4 linked regions of the Homo sapiens genome follow. Changing the gene in region 3 together with the main gene of any one other region gives a genetic interaction. Each region holds a gene or a part of one and is shown on either strand. Other genes may lie near its edges. The genes, in order: STK11, PBRM1, TYMS and CHEK1.

Region 1 (4,107 bases), on a different chromosome or scaffold from region 3:
CGGTCTGCCTGAGACAGGCCACGCGGGCTGACCGTTGTGGGCCATTTTGGTCGTGGCTGGGCGTGTCCTCGTGTCATCTGTGGACACCCCCATGGGTCTTACGGGCACAGCCTCCCTACGGGGACTTTGCTTCCTAAGGCCCTGTGCCCAGAGCAAGAGCCAGAAGTGGTCCTGAGGCTGGGGCTGTGTTCCCTGAGCCACGCGGTCAGGGGCCCTGGGACCGTCCTGCATGGGCCCGAGCCTGCTTGGGGGGGCGTCCAGGAGGCACCATCCCCCGCCCATGGGCAGGGTGGGGGACGTGAGCCCCGCAGGAACGCTGCCCCAAGAGTCAGCCCTGTCCTCCCCTTCCCCGTAGGCTCCTTCCTCCTGGGACGCTGGGGCCCCTGGGCCTTTTCAGAGGGGTGGCTGAGGGCAGGGTGGGCCCTGGTCCCGAGGAGGGGCAAGGTGGGTGCAGAGGGTCCCTCCAGAGCCCCTTTTCTGGCCCCCGTGCTCCCTGGGCCTGTGAGTGGGGCCGCCCCCTGAGCTGTGTGTCCTTAGCGCCCCACGTATATGGTGATGGAGTACTGCGTGTGTGGCATGCAGGAAATGCTGGACAGCGTGCCGGAGAAGCGTTTCCCAGTGTGCCAGGCCCACGGGTGCGTGCGCGGGGCAGGGGCCAGGGTGGGGCGGGGGCCGGGGGCCAGGCAGGGCAGGCTCCTTTCCGTGAGGCCACACTGCTTGTCCTGATATTCATTGACATGAAGGCCCAAGTTTTTTTGTTTTTTTGTTTTTTTGTGTTTTTTTTCGAGATGGAGTCTCACTCTGTCGCCCAGGCTGGAGTGCAATGGTGCGATCTCGGCTCACTGCAAGCTCCGCCTCCGAGGTTCACGCCATTCTTCTGCCTCAGCTTCCCGAGTAGCTGGGATTACAGGCGCCCGCCACCACGCCCGGCTAATTTTTTGTATTTTTAGTAGAGACGGGGTTTCACCGTGTTAGCCAGGATGGTCTCAAACTCCTGACCTCGTGATCCGCCTGCCTCAGCCTCCCAAAGTGCTGGGATTACAGGCATGAGCTACCACGCCCGGCCTTGTAAAGGCCCAAGTTTTTAAAAACAGTTTTGGGGTCCCCCATGTGTGGCATCCACAGGCAGGGCTGCTGCCAACCTCCCGCCTCCATCTTTGCTGGGCCTGCTGCCTGAGGCCAGTGGCCTGCTTCCAGCCCATCGCTGGCAGCCGCCTGCCCTGACCAGATCTCCTGGATGCAGGTCTGTGGCCTCAGAGTCAGGGCCCCTTGCTGCTGCAGGACCACAGGGGCAGGGAGGGGCCTGCTGTTCCAGCAAGACTTTGGGGTGCAGCCGGCCTGTGGCCCACAGGAAAATGAGACCTGTGGACATCCGGGGCCCTGCCAGACGTGGCTCGGCCGGACGAGGGTGGCCACTGCAGGCGCAGGTGTGGCTCCCTGCTGGACCTAGCCTTTCCTCTGTCCTGTGTGCCTGGACTTCTGTGACTTCCCAGCTGGGCCTGTGGTGTTTGGGAGGCTCCCAGGCAGCTGCAAAGGGGACCCCTGTGAGGGGCAGGGAGGCCTCGGCCCCAGGACGGGTGTGTGCTGCCCGCAGGTACTTCTGTCAGCTGATTGACGGCCTGGAGTACCTGCATAGCCAGGGCATTGTGCACAAGGACATCAAGCCGGGGAACCTGCTGCTCACCACCGGTGGCACCCTCAAAATCTCCGACCTGGGCGTGGCCGAGGTAGGCACGTGCTAGGGGGGGCCCTGGGGCGCCCCCTCCCGGGCACTCCCTGAGGGCTGCACGGCACCGCCACAGGCACTGCACCCGTTCGCGGCGGACGACACCTGCCGGACCAGCCAGGGCTCCCCGGCTTTCCAGCCGCCCGAGATTGCCAACGGCCTGGACACCTTCTCCGGCTTCAAGGTGGACATCTGGTCGGCTGGGGTCACCCTGTAAGTGCCCCGCCCCCCCGGGCACTCACCACACGCACACTCCGAGGGGCCTCTGCGTCTTGGGCAGCTGCCGGCCTGTGGGCGCAGGGCGTGGCCACCGGCCCAGACCCTCTCTGGCCACAGCCGCTAGGGGGTGCTTACTTTATGGAAATGTAACTCATACGGCAGATGGTGGTTCACCCGTGTGAAGTGCAGCCTGGCCCGTCAGGGATCTTCACAGAGTGGCACGGCCGACCCTCCTCCCAGAGCCCCACAGGGAAGCTGGGCGGGTGACAGCAGCTCCAGGCCCCTTCCCCGGGTGGGTCCAGAGGACACTCCCCTCCTACCCCGTAGCCTCCACTAGTGGAAGGTGGTGAAGACAGAGGTGTCCTTGAGTCCACAGGGCCTCTGGTCCAGCAGCCACGGGACGCCTCTGTCCCTGGGGTAGAGCTGGGGCTCCTAGGGCGTCAACCACCTTGACTGACCACGCCTTTCTTCCCTCCCCTCGAAATGAAGCTACAACATCACCACGGGTCTGTACCCCTTCGAAGGGGACAACATCTACAAGTTGTTTGAGAACATCGGGAAGGGGAGCTACGCCATCCCGGGCGACTGTGGCCCCCCGCTCTCTGACCTGCTGAAAGGTGGGAGCCTCATCCCTCTGCCCGCAGCCCCAGGGAGGCGGGGCTTTTGTGCAGAAATGTAGGGTTGGGGGTGTCAGGTGGGGGGCTATTGGCCCCGAGACCCCAGCAGGCATTGAGAGGACTGAGTGGAGAGGCCGACCTCCCCGCAGGGCCTGGTTTGCCAGGTCCCTCAGCTCCACCCTGCTTCTGGGCCCTGTTCACCCTCCGAACTCCCACCCCAGAGGGCAGTGCTGCCCTGCGCCTCCCCCAGCCCCACCCTCGGGGGCTCCCTGGCTTGCAGGGTCTGTCAGGGTTGTCCTGCTGCACTTCCTACGCATGGCAGCAGGTGGCACTGGCCGTCCGTCCATCTGCCCAGTGGCCTTGGGAGAACGGAACCGCCCTGGCCGTCCAGCCCAGCCCTGTCTCCCTGCCAGCCGCGCACAGGCTGTCCCCGGCATGTCCCAGGAGTGGAGTGGCCTCTGTCAGGGAGACCGCCTGTGCGCGGGGTCCCCCTTAGGAGCGTCCAGGTATCACCCAGGGCCTGACAACAGAGGCTGGGCAGGCGGGGACGGTTGGTGGGGTCTCAGGCCTGTGCCCAGCTGACAGGCTCCTCGCCGGCTTCTCCTCAGGGATGCTTGAGTACGAACCGGCCAAGAGGTTCTCCATCCGGCAGATCCGGCAGCACAGGTGAGCGGCCCCTGGGGGCAGTGGGGCCGAGGCTGCAGGGAGGCCGGCCATGTGGGCAGCTGGTTGAGCGGGCGCTAGAGCAGGGCGTGGTGGGGGTGCCAGGCTGGGCTGGGGCCAGACCCCGTGCAGCGCCCGCAGTTCTCGGGGCCCGAGTGGGGTCTCTGGGCAGTGTCCTGTTACCGGCCAGACCCAGGCGCCTTGTCCGAACTGGGGTCTGAGTGAGGACATGCGTCCGTCCCTGCCCTAGGCATGGAGATGCGCCAGGAAGGGCACAGCTGGTCCCAAACACTGGCGAGAGCCTCTCTTTTTCCCCTCCTCCTGGGGCTCCCAGCAGCAGGGTGTGGCTGGGATCCAGCCCAGGGCCCCCAGCTCCATGACAGGGAAGACAGAGCAGCGGACGGGGTCAGCAGGCCCCACAGTGCCGCCTCCCTCACTTCGTGGGCTCTGCTCCTCTGCACCAGCCCCTGGAGGCCCTTGAGCCGTCTGCTGGAGCCCCTCCGAGCCCCGAGGCCACCCACTGAGACCGGCTCTGGGAGTGGGAGTGTCCGGACCCCTGAGGCGCTGGTGCTGATTGTGCCTTGGGGGTCTCTGCACAGCTCGGGTCATCTGGGCGCCTGGCGGGGACTGGGGCTGCCCCCCGATAGCCTCCTGGGCTGGGATGTGCTCAGGGCCCCCCAGACCCCCTTCTGGCCTTTGCTGGCTTTGCAGCCAGCATCCATCTGGTGGGTGCTGGCTTCTGAGTGCCACCTGGGACACAGGCCTCAGGGTGGAGGGGACATCTGTCAGGCTTGGAGTCAGGTCAGCCTGCCTGCTCCTAGAGGACATGGCTGAGCTTCTGTGGTCACAGCCACCCCTTGCACGGCCTGGTCCCAGCTCCTG
Region 2 (5,196 bases), on a different chromosome or scaffold from region 3:
AACCTAAAGCAAAGCCATGAAAGTATTCTATAATGGTTACAGGCCTCAGAGTTAATGTTCATTTTAGTTTCCCAGAAATAACTGTGTAATTCTGGGGAACCAGCAAAGGCAACATAGTGAAAGATGGAAAAAAGATTATGTATGTCATACCCAGAACTTTTCTGAGTCTCCTTCCTCATTTATGAAATAAAGCGGCCAGGCATGGTGGCTCATGCCTATAATCCCAATGCTTTGGGAGGCCGAGGCGGGAGGACTGCTTAAGGCCAGGAGTTTGAGACCAGCCTAAGCAACACAGCAAGACGCTGTCTCAACAAAAAAGTAGCCTGGCATTGGGGTACACACTTGCAGTCCTAGCTATCCGGGAAGCTGAGGCGGGAGGGTCACTTGAGCCCAGGAGTTCAAGGGTGCAGTAAGTTATGATGGCACCGCTGCATTCCCACTCTGGGCAACAGAGCAAGACCCTGTCTGTTAAAAAAAAAAAAATCAATAAACAGGCCAGTTGTGGTGGCTCACACCTACAATCCCAGCACTTTGGGAGGCCAAGGTGGGCCAAAATGGTGAAACCCAGTCTCTGCTGAAAATACAAAAACTGATGGTGCACACATGTAATCTCAGCTACTCAGGAGGCTGAGGCAGGACAATCACTTGAACCCGGGAGGTGGAGGTTGCAGTGAGCCAAGATCGCGCCGCTGCACTCTAGTCTGGGCAACAGAGTGAGTGAGACTCTGTCCCAAAATAAATAAATAAATAAATAAATAAATAAATAAAATGTGGGGAGTGGGCAAAATAAACTTCAGACTTTAGAATTTTGACTGGAGGAAATTTTATTACTGTTTCTAGTACCACTGTGGTCTGAGGAAGGTTTACATACAATTGTTTTTATTTCATTTTATTTTGAGGCTGGGTCTTGCCCTGTCACCCAGACTGGAGTGCAGTGGCGTGATCACAGCTCACCATAGCCTCAACTTCTTGGGCTCAGGCTGGCTAATTTTAAAATTTTTTGTAGCAACAGGGTGCTCCCTGTGTTGCCCAGGCTGGTCTCGAACTCCTGGCCTCGAGTGATCCTCCCTCTTCAGCCTTCCAAAGTGCTTAAATTACAGATGTGAGCCACCACACCTGGCTGGCATAAATCAAATTCTATTAACTAAGAATACCAGAGTCTAAAAACTTATTCACAAAACTAACCACAAAGGTCTTAGCAGTTACAGAGACATTCTGGTCAGAGGAGTGTGGCCAAGTAGGCCACCTACTGATACATGCCACTAGAGCATCAAACTTCAGAGAGGTCCCCAGAATGCTGCTCCCATCAGCAAAGGTGAACTGACAAACAATTAAAAGACACGATCAATAATCTAAATGGGTGTTTCCGGAAAGTCTCTTTTTTTTTTTTTTTTGAGATGGAGTTTCGTTCTTGTTGCCCAGGCTGGAGTACAGTGGTGCGGTCTCAGCTCATTGCAACCTCTGCCTCCCAGGTTCAAGCGATTCTCCTGCCTCAGCCTCTCAAGTAGCTGGGATTATAGGCACCTACCACCATGCCTGGCTAATTTTTGTACTTTTAGTAGAAACGAGGCTTCACCATGTTGGCCAGGCTGGTCTCGAACTCCTGACCTCAGGTGATCCGCCCGCCGTGGCCTCCCAAAGTGCTGGGATTACAGGTGTGAGCCACTGTGTCCGGCCTTGGAAAGGTTTTAAATATCTTTTGGGGTCATAGAAATGCTAATACTTGTAGGAAAGCAATAAAAATAAAACTTACCAAGGGAAGACACCCCTGAAACACTTTTTTTTTCTTCTTGAGACACAGTCTCACTCTGCTGCCCAGGCTGGAGTACAGTGGCACGATCATGGCTCACTACAGTCTCAATCTCCTGGCTCAAGCAATCCTCCCACCTCAACCTCTCGAGTAGCTGGGACTATAGGCATATGTCACCAAGCTTGGCTGATTTTTTAAATTTTATTTTAAGTAGAGCTAAGGAAGGTCTTGCTATATTGTCCAGACTGGTCTCAAGCTCCTGAGTGCAAGCCATCCTCCCACCTTGGGCTCCAAAAGTGCTGGGATTACAGGTGTGAGCCACTGTACCTGGCCCCTAAAACATAATTTTATGTTTGTTTTCTGAATGAAGATATTTGAATTCTGTTCACTTGAAATTAAAGTTCATTTTATAATAGTGTACAATTTTAAGTATAAAAAGTGAAAATTTCTGTAAATTAAAAGTAAAAAATTTTTGTAAAATTTTTGTAAATACCTTTCATGGTATACTAAAAGGGCAGATCATAATTCCATCATATCGCATGGTTTAGAAATGAACATTCTGTACAAGAGTCACTAAACACCTAGTATATGCTTTTGTTTATTCAAAGCATTATAAAGAATTTATTAGTCTACGAGGTCAGGTATTCATTGAATGTGCAGGAACATAAACGCAAGCTGGAAAAAGAACTCTAAATTCCCCTCAATTGGTAATCTTTTTATATAAGGCAGACATTCAGCAAAAGGAAATAATTAAGAATACAGGAGGCTCTTAATGCTTCCCTTGTTCATCTTCCCACAGGTCTCTTTTACCTGCAAGGGGATCAGAGTGTTTAGTCTGGGAATACTGCCAGCAGTTTAGGAAAGCCAGCAGCCAACTGGCATGAGTCAGCACTGTGCTGTTACTAAATACTGTTGATGGACAAACTATTGTCACCTGAGTGAATTTTTCTCTTGTTACGTCTCACTGTTCAGATTCCTTCTATTTTAGCCTGTGAAGTCCTAGGTGATGTTGGGTAGCAGTGGTGGGTAGGGGTAGGGGTAAATGGTGATGAAGCATGAAGACTCTTAGAGATCAACATGGAAATCTACGGTATGTAGACTTCATTGAATTTATGAACTAATATTTCTGGGATGCCTAGCTTTGTTACTGATAATATAGTAGATAAAGGCATAGTTTATCATTCACTAAATTGATGCATCTCCATCAATTCTTATTAAGTACTTATTCTTAATAAGTACTATAAGCAATCACAATACTATCTTTGTTCACAAAGTTAAGAATGGCTCCCCGTATGTTTTTCTTTAAAAAATTTTTCCTAACTACTAAATTACCAGGGATCCCTTTTGTTTTTCAACAAAGCTCTGGGCATGAGGGTAAAACTGTGTGCATCACTATCTCATAAAAATACACCTTGGACTCTATCTTCCAGGCCTCAAAAGCAAAAAACAACCATGTCAACAATGGGAGAATGAAAAGAGCTAATTTCCTAGAGATACAAATCTTAATTCTTAAAATAAACATTTCATCTATAAGACATAAACGAAGTTCCTAATAATCTAGAAGACAAATACTCATTGAAAGACTCACAGAACTAACACCAAGATGTAATGGGGCTAAGCAGGGAGGAGAGGAAGGGAGGGGTATTAGACTTAAGGACTACTTAAGCCAAGAACAAGAACAGAAAGAAGTCTAAGCTACATGAAAGCAGAGTTTGTTTTGCCCACTGGTGTATTACATGCATCTAGAATATGCTCATTAAGTAGCCTCTCAATAAATATGTGTTGAATAAATGAGTAACTCCAAGAGTTTTTGACTGCAAGATGTCCCTCCATCCTTCTCTTTATTTCTACTCAATTGCTGAAGAACCATATTATTAAGGACCATTTCTTAAAAGTGTCACACATGGGCCTCACCAAACTGGCCCCAACTCTATCCCTGTCTCTTAAACATATCATATTCATTTCCTAACTCCATTTCTTTGCTCATAACATTCATCTTATTTGAAATATCCTCTGGCCTATTCATTTGAACCCTACCTATCATCCCATGCCTTTTAAGGAGAACTGTGGCCCACAGAGTTCCTTACATCACCATCTTTACTAAATATAAGGTTGTGGCATGTTGTCTCATGTGTGGAATTATTTTTCCCTTAAGCGTAAGTCCTGGCCCATCCATCAGACTTCAAGCTTTTAGAGCACAGAGCTCAAGGCTTATCATCTATGGCCGTGCTCCATGACTTGTCCTGGTAACTGGCTCAGGAGTAGCCCTCTGCAGTGGAGAGCAAGACAAGTCACATCATTTACTAGTTGTAAGACTATGGGTAACTTTTCTCTGCCTATGCCTCTAATTCTTTCACATGCAAACTGAAAAGATTATCACTTATCTAGAATGGCTATCATAAGGGTTAGAGATTGCCTTCATAAAGTGCTTAGCATGGTGCTTTACGAAGAGCTGGTGCTTAACACAAGCAGCAAATGTTACTATGTTTTTTTTCTTTTATTTGCAAAGACACTGAAAGCAAACATTACTACTTGCTTTTCTTTAAAGGTTCAGAGCAAATTCTGATTTCATAGATTCCCCAGCTGGCATTACACTGCCTGAAGGTCTAGTTCTAAACATGATAGGCTGTAAGCTCCAGGAAGGTAAGGTTTGTATCTTTTTTTTTTTTATATTTTTCCAACTGTCTCTAAGTGCACATATAAAATACACTGTAATTGCTGAATTTAATAGTCAAGTCTGCTATTGACATGTAGCAACGATATATCACAGATAAAAATTAGAAGGAAATTTAAGTTTAAAGTAAATCTAAATTTGATTGCTTCTTTTAGAACATTTAATGTCTTCAGCAAGCTCTTAAGGTGAGAAACCTGAGATTAAAAAAAAAAAAGAAACCCTCTGAGGTACTTAAAATGGTGATCAAATTTCTATCAGTCTAACCTCAGGACAACACCTTAGAGCTATTTTATTTAAAGCATTCGTGCACTGAAGCCAAACCTTAAAAGAAAAACGCTGTTACTATTTCCAATTAGAAACATTTATCTTTTTAAAAAACACATTCTATGAAAGGCTGTATTTTAAGTTTATGCTTTTCAAGAGATTTTCAATTTTGTCTTCCTCCTCACTGGCCTTAAACTAGATGACTTAGTGGTGTGCCTTCTCTCCCCCACAGAATATACTCACTCTTAAGAAGTTCTGGCTGATTAGAATTCAGAATAGCATGCTACCAACTACAAATCATGTATGTAAGTGGAAATAGTACATCAAAGCAATATTCTTTCATCTGTTTTGTATTAAATAGCACATATCCTCAAAATAAAAATGGCTTTGAAAACATACCGATTCATCCTTCTTGCTCGTTCCAATACTTCAAACATATGCTCTTGAAATAAATCAAGCCGACGGTAGCGATTATTTTCAACATTCTTCCTAATTATGTCAAATGTAA
Region 3 (5,196 bases):
ATGGAACTGGAAGCTGAGAAGTGATTTGTTAACTGAAGTGCAGAGCTTCATAATCTCCTTTGGTTAAATTTCTACCTATTAGTGTCAGACTATATTCTGGTTCAGTAGTTCTCAAAATTTTGGGAGGAAAGTCCTCTCATGGTCACTGTTCCGAAAAAGGTAACATCAAAGATTTTAAAAAGATGAACCTTGGTAGTGTAGTTCTGTAACTTGATTGTAGTGGTTACAAGAGTCTACACGTGCTAAAATTGCAAATACACACATACACAAGTGCACGTAAAACTAGCAAAATCTGACAACTCTGAGGAATGCACCAATGTGAATGTATACAGGATGTTACCCAAGATATTATCACTGGGGGAAACTGGGTAGTGTGTCCAGGGAAACTTTCTGTGCATTAAAAAAAAAAAAAAAAAAATTCCTGTGAATCTGTAAAACAAAATTAAAAACAAAAAGGGACAAACTTTCCTACTAAAATCCAACAGCTAAGCATTCATACCACTGTAAACTAAAACCATAATTTTATTAGGCCTTTTAAGCGACAAGAAATAATTGAATACTAGGCAGGATTTAAAGCATCATTAAGCCCGGGGACTGGCCTCACATCCTACGGACACCCTACAACTGAGGTGCAGGCAACGACCTGCAGAACACTTACCTGCACAAGTAACTTGGCCCACGCAGCAGCTTTTTTCATTGTGATAAAGTACACATAATATTAAACTTGCCATTTTTGTGTGCAATTCAGAAGCATTAAGCACGTTCCTGATGTTAGGCAACCATCACCATCACCCATCTCCATCACCATCACCATCACCATCACCATCACCATCACCATCTCCATCACCATCACCATCTCCATCACCATCACCATCACCATCTCCATCACCATCACCATCACCATCACCATCTCCATCACCATCACCATCACCATCACCATCACCATCTCCATCATCACCATCACCATCACCATCACCATCTCCATCACCATCACCATCACCATCACCATCACCATCTCCATCACCATCACCATCACCATCACCATCTCCATCACCATCACCATCTCCATCACCATCTCCATCACCATCACCATCTCCATCACCATCACCATCACCATCTCCATCACCATCCCATCACCATCACCATCTCCATCACCATCACCATCACCATCTCCATCTCCATCACCATCACCATCTCCATCACCATCACCATCACCATCTCCATCACCATCACCATCACCATCACCATCTCCATCACCATCACCATCACCATCACCATCTCCATCACCATCACCATCACCATCTCCATCTCCATCTCCATCACCATCACCATCTCCATCACCATCACCATCTCCATCTCCATCACCATCACCATCTCCATCACCATCTCCATCTCCATCACCATCACCATCTCCATCACCATCACCATCTCCATCTCCATCACCATCTCCATCTCCATCACCATCACCATCTCCATCACCATCACCATCTCCATCACCATCACCATCTCCATCACCATCTCCCGAACTTTTTCGTCATCCCTAACAAAACCTCTGTGCCCATTAAACATGAACTCCCCATTCCTCCCTGTTCCCCAGTCCCTGGAAACTAGCATTCCACTTTCTGCCTTTAAGAACTTGCCTATTCTAGGTCCACACAGCATTTTTAAACTTCCTGAAGTTGCTAACATTTAACAGATCTCATGACCGCACATAAAATATAGATTTTAGGCTTTTATTGAAGAATTCTGACATCACCAGGCCCAAATTCCTCCAGGTGGCTGGAGGTGAAATGTGACTGTCCCCTTAGATGAGACACCTGCTCTCCAGGTTGCTGGTCTCTGCCCAGCTAGTAAATTGCACACACAAACCCCACATTCCAAGGTGGCATCTGCTTTTCCTAGGGACAGGTGGGAGGGGCTGGGCTCTGTGACATCCAGTAAGAGGTGACACCAACAGTGACAGGAAAGTGGAAGTCCAGGAGTGAGATGTTTCATTCTTTCTCCACCTCTGCAGAGCTGGGAGTGGAGTGTGACCCTGGCACTGCGCTTCACAGCAGCGCCACCTACAGCACGCTGTGGCTCAGCCTCGAAAGGGAGATTAAAGCCACAACAAAGCAATGGGGGCATTTTGTCCCTTGTCCCACCGATGAACTTCCCATTCCCCAGCACGAACACCAACCATGCAGCTATCTGCCGATGACACAGTATGGAAAGTGCCAAGCGCCCAGTAAGTGCCAATCATCTGACCTACAAAGAGACTTAGACTCCCACACATTAATAATGGGAGACTTTAACACCCCACTGTCAACATTAGACAGATCAACGAGACAGAAAGTTAACAAGGATACCCAGGAATTGAACTCAGCTCTGCACTAAGCGGACCTAATAGACATCTACAGAACTCTCCACCCCAAATCAACAGAATATACATTTTTTTCAGCACCGCACCACACCTATTCCAAAATTGACCACATAGTTGGAAGTAAAGCTCTCCTCAGCAAATGTAAAAGAACAGAAATTATAACAAACTATCTCTCAGACCACAGTGCAATCAAACTAGAACTCAGAACTAAGAAACTCACTCAAAACTGCTCAACTACATGGAAACTGAACAACCTGCTCCGGAATGACTACTGGGTACATAACGAAATGAAGGCAGAAATAAAGATGTTCTTTGAAACCAACGAGAACAGAGACACAACATACCAGAATCTCTGGGACACATTCAAAGCAGTGTGTAGAGGGAAATTTATAGCACTAAATGCCCACAAGAGAAAGCAGGAAAGATCCAAAATTGACACCCTAACATCACAATTAAAAGAACTAGAAAAGCAAGAGCAAACACATTCAAAAGCTAGCAGAAGGCAAGAAATAACTAAAATCAGAGCAGAACTGAAGGAAATAGAGACACAAAAAACCCTTCAAAAAATTAATGAATCCAGGAGCTGGTTTTTTGAAAGGATCAACAAAATTTATAGACCGCTAGCAAGACTAATAAAGAAAAAGAGAAGAATCAAATAGACGCAATAAAAAATGATAAAGGGGATATCACCACCAATCCCACAGAAATACAAACTACCATCAGAGATTACTACAAACACCTCTACGCAAATAAACTAGAAAATCTAGAAGAAATGGATAAATTCCTTGACACATACACTCTCCCAAGACTAAACCAGGAAGAAGTTGAATCTCTGAATAGACCAATAACAGGAGCTGAAATTGTGGCAATAATCAATAGCTTACCAACCAAAAAGAGTCCAGGACCAGATGGATTCACAGCCGAATTCTACCAGAGGTACAAAGAGGAACTGGTACCATTCCTTCTGAAACTATTCCAATCAATAGAAAAAGAGGGAATCCTCCCTAACTCATTTTATGAAGCCAGCATCATCCTGATACCAAAGCTGGGCAGAGACACAACCAAAAAAGAGAATTTTAGACCAATATCCTTGATGAACATTGATGCAAAATTCCTCAATAAAATACTGGCAAACCGAATCCAGCAGCACATCAAAAAGCTTATCCACCATGATCATGTGGGCTTCATCCCTGGGATGCAAGGCTGGTTCAATATACACAAATCAATAAATGTAATCCAGCATATAAACAGATCCAAAGACAAAAACCACATGATTATCTCAATAGATGCAGAAAAGGCCTTTGACAAAATTCAACAACACATCATGCTAAAAACTCTCAATAAATTAGGTATTGATGGGACATATTTCAAAATAATAAGAGCTATCTATGACAAACCCACAGCCAATATCATACTGAATGGGCAAAAACTGGAAGCATTCCCTTTGAAAACTGGCACAAGACAGGGATGCCCTCTCTCACCACTCCTATTCAACATAGTGTTGGAAGTTCTGGCCAGGGCAATTAGGCAGGAGAAGGAAATAAAGGGTATTCAATTAGGAAAAGAGGAAGTCAAATTGTCCCTGTTTGCAGACGACATGATTGTATATCTAGAAAACCCCATTGTCTCAGCCCAAAATCTCCTTAAGCTGATAAGCAACTTCAGCAAAGTCTCAGGATATAAAATCAATCTGCAAAAATCACAAGCATTCTTATACACCAATAACAGACAAACAGAGAGCCAAATCATGAGTGAACTTCCACTCACAATTGCTTCAAAGAGAATAAAATACCTAGGAATCCACCTTAAAAGGGATGTGAAGGACCTCTTCAAGGAGAACTACAAACCACTGCTCAATGAAATAAAAGAGGATACAAAGAAATGGAAGACCATTCCATGCTCATGGGTAGGAAGAATCAATATCGTGAAAATGGCCATACTGCCCAAGGTAATTTATAGATTCAATGCCATCCCCATCAAGCTACCAATGACTTTCTTCACAGAATTGGAAAAAACTACTTTAAAGTTCATATGGAACCAAAAAAGAGCCCACATCGCCAAGTCAATCCTAAGCCAAAAGAACAAAGCTGGAGACATCACACTACCTGACTTCAAACTATACTACAAGGCTACAGTAACCAAAACAGTATGGTACTGGTACCAAAACAGACATATAGATCAATGGAACAGAACAGAGCCCTCAGAAATAACACCGCATATCTACAACTATCTGATCTTTGACAAACCTGAGAAAAACAAGCAATGGGGAAAGGATTCCCTATTTAATAAATGGTGCTGGGAAAACTGGCTAGCCATATGTAAAAAGCTGAAACTGGATCCCTTCCTTACACCTTATACAAAAATCAATTCAAGATGGATTAAAGACTTAAACGTTAGACCTAAAACCATAAAAACCCTAGAAGAAAACCTAGGCATTACCATTCAGGACATAGGCATGGGCAAGGACTTCATGTCTAAAACACCAAAAGCAATGGCAACAAAAGACAAAATTGACAAATGGGATCTAATTAAACTAAAGAGCTTCTGCACAGCAAAAGAAACTACCATCAGAGTGAACAGGCAACCCACAAAATGGGAGAAAATTTTTGCAACCTACTCATCTGACAAAGAGCTAATATCCAGAATCTACAATGAACTCAAACAAATTTATAAGAAAAAAACAAACAACCCCATCAAAAAGTGGGCGAAGGACATGAACAGACACTTCTCAAAAGAAGACATTTATGCAGCCAAAAAACACATGAAAAAATGCTCACCATCACTGGCCATCAGAGAAATGCAAATCAAAACCACAATGAGACACCATCTCACAC
Region 4 (5,196 bases), on a different chromosome or scaffold from region 3:
AACAGAGGAGGTTATTATTTTAGATAAGTCAGGGAAAGACTTTGCAGAGGAAGTAACATTTCTGAGATGGAGAAAACTAGGAGAGGAACAGGTTGGAGAACAGGAATCAAAAGCTGTTTTTGGTCAAGAGATGCCTACTAGACATTCAAGTGGAAATGTAAAGCAGGTAAAAGGTTAGAGCTTACAGAAGAGGTTCAAGTCAGTGAGAGCTGTTTTTGAAAAATATTAATGACTCAGATAATTCTCAAGAACAAAATTTCTCCCATATTTGAGAATTTATACTGATTCAATTCTTAAGCATACCGTAAATAGGTTCAAATAAATAAAACAGGTTTGAATTTATTCCTCCTATGGGTATACTCCAGTAACACAATTTGCCAGTATACATTAATATGTGATAAACTCTAATCATAACATTCTACATGTTCTTGGCTTCAGATTAAAATAACTGATTAATTTTATAATGTTTTACAATTTTAAAAATTTTTATTAGAGGTAGGGTCTTACTCTGTCATCCAAGCTGGAGTGCACTGGTGCAATCATAGCTCACTACAGCCTCAAACTTCCAGGTTCACGCGATCCTCCTCTCTCAGCCTCCTAAGTAGCTGGGACTACAGGCAGGAGCCAAGGCCTCAACCTAATATGCCCCAAAGTTGATACAAATTTTATTAGAAAAACAAACTTTTTGTAAGTCTAACAGGTAAAGGAACAAAGAATCAGATCTATTTTTCTTATAGCTTCCTTACTCTTCCCTTCCCTCTTTTATTCTTTATCACCTAAAAGCTTGGTCACCAGTAAGTTGAAAAGGTTAAAATATGGCTATGAAAGTAGAAAATATAGAAAAATATTTAAGATGTTCAACAGTAATTTTTAGAGTAAAGTTAGTTAAGCACTAGAGTTTATGCAACACTGTAAAATACAAGTATTTTACTAACTACACTGGAAAAAACACCTACTTGCAATTTTAATTAATCATTATAATTCAAAAACAGGTTTATATAACTGGCCAGGCCCTTTTGAAAATATAAGTACAAATCTTGGGGATATGTTTTGAAGCTGGCTTCGCTTCACAGACTGATAAATCTACTGTCCAAAAGTCACAAGAATTATGTCTTTATTGGTTCATCTTAGAATTAAATCAACATGGAATATGTACTTTTTGAATTAAACAAAATGTTTTGATAAAAATGAGATACGTGTGTATAAAAGCTGGAAAACTCATGTCCCCTGAAACTTGGTTTCCACCAGATGAGTTTCAAATTCAGATACTAAACACACATGAAGAAATAATCAAATGAATTCTATTCATCCTTTCCCCAAAGTTTTGCTTACAATTAAGATATAGGTATTATTTGTATGCCGAACAAACAAAATAAATTGGAAGATGTTTGGATAAACAGGGAAGTGAACACTTCAGGAACTACTATTTGCAGTTTGCAGGACAGGATAATCTTCTCTAGGAAGAATAATGTCAACATAGCAGCACTATATTCACCAGGATTCCCCAGAGCCGATGGTCCGATCATGTGGCAGGAAGCCAAATCTTCTGGCTGCTCACAATATCAATCAGCTTCCCTTTAATCTTCAGGAAGTGTCTCTTGAACTCCAATCCATCACCCTATATTAGAAATAGTATTAAAAAATTATGTCAAAACAAAAACAAAAACAAAATTCTGTCCTAAAATCAATCTCTTTGTAGTGGTAACAAGAGACAAACATCTTTAGGTATGTCTAGCTACCATTTTCTTTTCGGTCTGTTTATGAAGACCAAATATCCTGGAAGAGAAAATTGTTACACAAATAATTCTGATGTGGTTTCATGCCCATCACTGTTCCTACTGCACTGAGCTCAGAGAGCAGATAAACATGGCATCCTATCTGTTTCAGGTGTTGGTATATCTGGACCTAAGTCATTACATTCCATAGGCAGTGAGGGTTTGGAAACTAACAATAAACTATACAACTAAACTGAAGTCTTGTTGTCATAACACTACTGACCAAAATCAATAGATTTAGTTATGAGAAGAATTTCATTATACTACGATCTTAATTTAATTCTGTAGCAAGCATCTGAAAAACAGTATTGCAGCAAATCTCTAATACAAAGAGTACTGCGGCAAATGCTCTAACACAGCAGCTACCCCTCCAACCCTCTTTAGAGCCACATACAATCTCTCAGAAAATAGAGAAAAATGTTATTTTGGTTTTATATATCAAGGGCTGTAATACTATCATCTTAGAATCAATGATTTCTAAAGAAATCATCAGAAATATGAACAAAAAAATCTATGCATAAAATAGCAATCACAGAATTATTATAACTGGTAAAGGTTCATTAAATTATAATGAAATATTTGTAACAAATCATAATTTTTATTAAAAGACATAAATTAAGAAAAATATTAAAATGCTTCGAAATATTAATGTGATCACTGAAAATTTAGAATTATTTTTATTTTCTCATTTTTTGCTTATCTACATTTTTCACAAAAGCAGAAATTTCTTTTTTTTGAGACAGAGTCTCTTGTATTGTCACCCAGACTGGAGTGCAGTGGCGTCATCTCGGCTCACTGCAACCTCCGCCTCCCAGGTTCAAATGATTCTCCTGCTTCAGCCTCCCAAGTAGCTGGGATTACAGGCACCCGCCACCACGCCTGGCTAATTTTTTGTATTTTTAGTAAAGATGGGGTTTCACTATGTTGGCCAGGCTGGTCTCAAACTCCTGACCTCGAGATCCACCCGTCTCGGACTCCCAAAGTGCTGGGATTACAGGCATGAGCCACCACGCCTGGCAAAAACTTTTATAATAAGGAAAATGTCATTTGAAAAAAACAATGTTCGGGAAAAATAGATAACGAAAACACATGCTCATAATATTAAACGAAAAAAGCAAGTAACCTATTTACAAATGCCACATATATACAAACATAATGCCATTAAAAAAATTCATATAGAAATATTTCCATAGAAAGAATACAATAAAACATAAAAATACCTTAGAAAGCCGGAAGTCAACCAATATTTTATCATCCATTTCTAACAAATTCACTTTGAAAATGAGTTTATTGTTTCTCCTATCAGTTGTTGATATAGTAACCTAAGGCAACAAAAATAAGGTTAAGCCACATGGGTGAGTAGATAATAAACTAGTAAACCCACTATGAAGAACAGAATAGAAGTTTCTCAAAAAACTACAAATAAAACTACCTATATGTTCCAGCAATCCCACTACTGATCCAAAGGAAAGGAAATTATATGGAAGAGAAATTTGCAACCCTACAGCATTATTCACAATAGCCAAGATATGGAATCAACCTAGGTATCCAACAACAGATGAGTGTAGGCCAGGCACTGTGGCTCACGCCTGTAATCCAGCACTTTGGGAGGCCAAAGCAGAAGGATCGCTTCAGACCAGGCTGGGCAACATATCGATACCTCATCTCTACTAAAATTCCCAAAAAATTAGCGGGCATGGTGGTGCATGCCTACAGGCCCAGCTACTCAGGGGGCTGAGGCAGAAGGGTCACTTGAGCCCAGGAGGTTGAAGCTGCAGTGAGCTATGATTGCGCCACTGCACTCTAGCATGGGCGACAGAGCGAGACCCTGTCTCAAAAAAACAAAACAAAAAGCCAAGCAAACAGATGAGGATAATATGATATATATACACAATGAAATACTACTCAGCCATATAAAGGAATGAAATCCTGTCATTTGCAGCAACATGGGTGGAACTGGAGGACATTATGTAAAGTGAAATAAGCCAGGAACAGAAAATTAAACATCACATGTTCTCACTCATATGTGGAAACAAAAAAACTGTTAATTTCATAGAAGTAGAAGGCAGAACAGAGGATACTAGAGTCCAGGAAGGGGAGAGGGAAGGGAAAGATAGAGATTCATGAAAGAATACAAAATTACAGCTAGATAGGAGTAAGTTCTAGACCACTGTAGGATGACTATACTTAACAATAATAGAGTTTCAAATTGCTAGAAGGATACTGAACATTCCCATCACTGAACATTCCCATTCCCACAATGTTTGAAATTATGAATATGCTAATTATCCTGATCTGATCATTATACATTATATGAATCAAAACATCACTACATACCCCATGAATACATTACAATTATTGTATCAATTAAAAAAAATTTGCTGGCTACCTCCATAACAGGAGTAATATTAAGTATGCTGATAATCTCACTCATTCCAGAGTCTCTCTTCTCCCAGTGGGTATGTGTGTCCCCAACCCAATCTATCAACAGGGGTGCAGCTCCTAGGGATTGAGTGTATATGAACTCATAGCAACAAAACTTACTGTCTTTTACCAAAATACCACTGAAAGAAGAAACAATCAAAGATGAAAACATAATGGGAGGAAAAACAAGATTATTAAAATGTGAGAAAGAAAAAGGCCTGACTTGTGGCTGAAAAGCTAGAGCGGCAATTAGAAGATGGCAAAGGTCTTGAGAGGCCTTCAACTTCCACTTTCAGTCTTTTAGAACGTTCCTATGGCATGGAAAGACGCTCAGCCTAGCTGAATGATGCAGAAAGAAAAGACTCAGCTAACAGACAGTGCCAAGACTCCAAATATGGGAGTAAGGATGTTTTAGACCACCAGCCACAGTAAAGACATCAAATGACTACAGCTGGATGAGTTAAGCCCGAGCGAGATCAGCAGATTTGCCCAAAAAACACAGCCCAAATTACAAAAGTTTTTGTAATAATTCTTACTTCAAGAAACTATGAAAACACACAACCATACCACGACTGTGCAGCACTGAAATAACCCACTATGTTCTGGGAAAATTAATACAAGATATTCAACTCAACACATCTGAATTAAGCTCTTAAACTTCAAAGACAAAGAAAATACTTCAAGAACTGAGAGAGAGTGAATCAAGGAGTGATGTCAGTGAAAATGGCAGAGAAAAGAACTCCAGAAGTCCATTACTCCACAAAAGCAATTTTAAAAACCTGCCAAAGCCTGTCAGAATCAACTTTTTCAGAACATTGTAAACTAGCTAAAAGCTTGCAGCAACTTATTCAAAACAAGTGAAACGCAGTAAGAACAGTGAGCTTTCTGGCATTTTAACTTACCCTGTTTATCCCCTGCTCCTCACTCAGTAGCAGCCTTGAAAATAACAGTTCATATTTAAGGCATAGGTCCAGGTGGGAGCAGAATAAACCTCATT

The links.
Region 1: changes in TYMS (region 3) and STK11 together harm fitness more than expected from each alone (negative genetic interaction), as found in Homo sapiens cells (one large-scale study listed by BioGRID).
Region 2: changes in TYMS (region 3) and PBRM1 together harm fitness more than expected from each alone (negative genetic interaction), as found in Homo sapiens cells (one large-scale study listed by BioGRID).
Region 4: changes in TYMS (region 3) and CHEK1 together harm fitness more than expected from each alone (negative genetic interaction), as found in Homo sapiens cells (one large-scale study listed by BioGRID).

Annotation. Positions count from the first base shown.
Region 1 is NC_000019.10:1,218,779-1,222,885, forward strand, and holds part of STK11 (serine/threonine-protein kinase STK11), read left to right. Parts: intron 1-545; coding exon 546-635; intron 636-1,594; coding exon 1,595-1,727; intron 1,728-1,802; coding exon 1,803-1,939; intron 1,940-2,434; coding exon 2,435-2,562; intron 2,563-3,170; coding exon 3,171-3,228; intron 3,229-4,107. UniProt on the Homo sapiens protein: Tumor suppressor serine/threonine-protein kinase that controls the activity of AMP-activated protein kinase (AMPK) family members, thereby playing a role in various processes such as cell metabolism, cell polarity, apoptosis and DNA damage response.
Region 2 is NC_000003.12:52,604,226-52,609,421, forward strand, and holds part of PBRM1 (protein polybromo-1), read right to left. Parts: coding exon 5,088-5,196; intron 1-5,087. UniProt on the Homo sapiens protein: Involved in transcriptional activation and repression of select genes by chromatin remodeling (alteration of DNA-nucleosome topology). Required for the stability of the SWI/SNF chromatin remodeling complex SWI/SNF-B (PBAF).
Region 3 is NC_000018.10:663,215-668,410, reverse strand, and holds part of TYMS (thymidylate synthase), read right to left. Parts: coding exon of another isoform or gene 3,135-5,196; exon of another isoform or gene 2,015-3,134; intron 1,575-2,014; exon of another isoform or gene 732-1,574; coding exon of another isoform or gene 659-731; intron 1-658. Other genes in the region: ENOSF1 (mitochondrial enolase superfamily member 1), read left to right, coding at 3,135-5,196. UniProt on the Homo sapiens protein: Catalyzes the reductive methylation of 2'-deoxyuridine 5'-monophosphate (dUMP) to thymidine 5'-monophosphate (dTMP), using the cosubstrate, 5,10- methylenetetrahydrofolate (CH2H4folate) as a 1-carbon donor and reductant and contributes to the de novo mitochondrial thymidylate biosynthesis pathway.
Region 4 is NC_000011.10:125,651,647-125,656,842, reverse strand, and holds part of CHEK1 (serine/threonine-protein kinase Chk1), read right to left. Parts: intron 3,098-5,196; coding exon 2,996-3,097; intron 1,619-2,995; coding exon 1,523-1,618; 3' UTR 1-1,522. UniProt on the Homo sapiens protein: Serine/threonine-protein kinase which is required for checkpoint-mediated cell cycle arrest and activation of DNA repair in response to the presence of DNA damage or unreplicated DNA.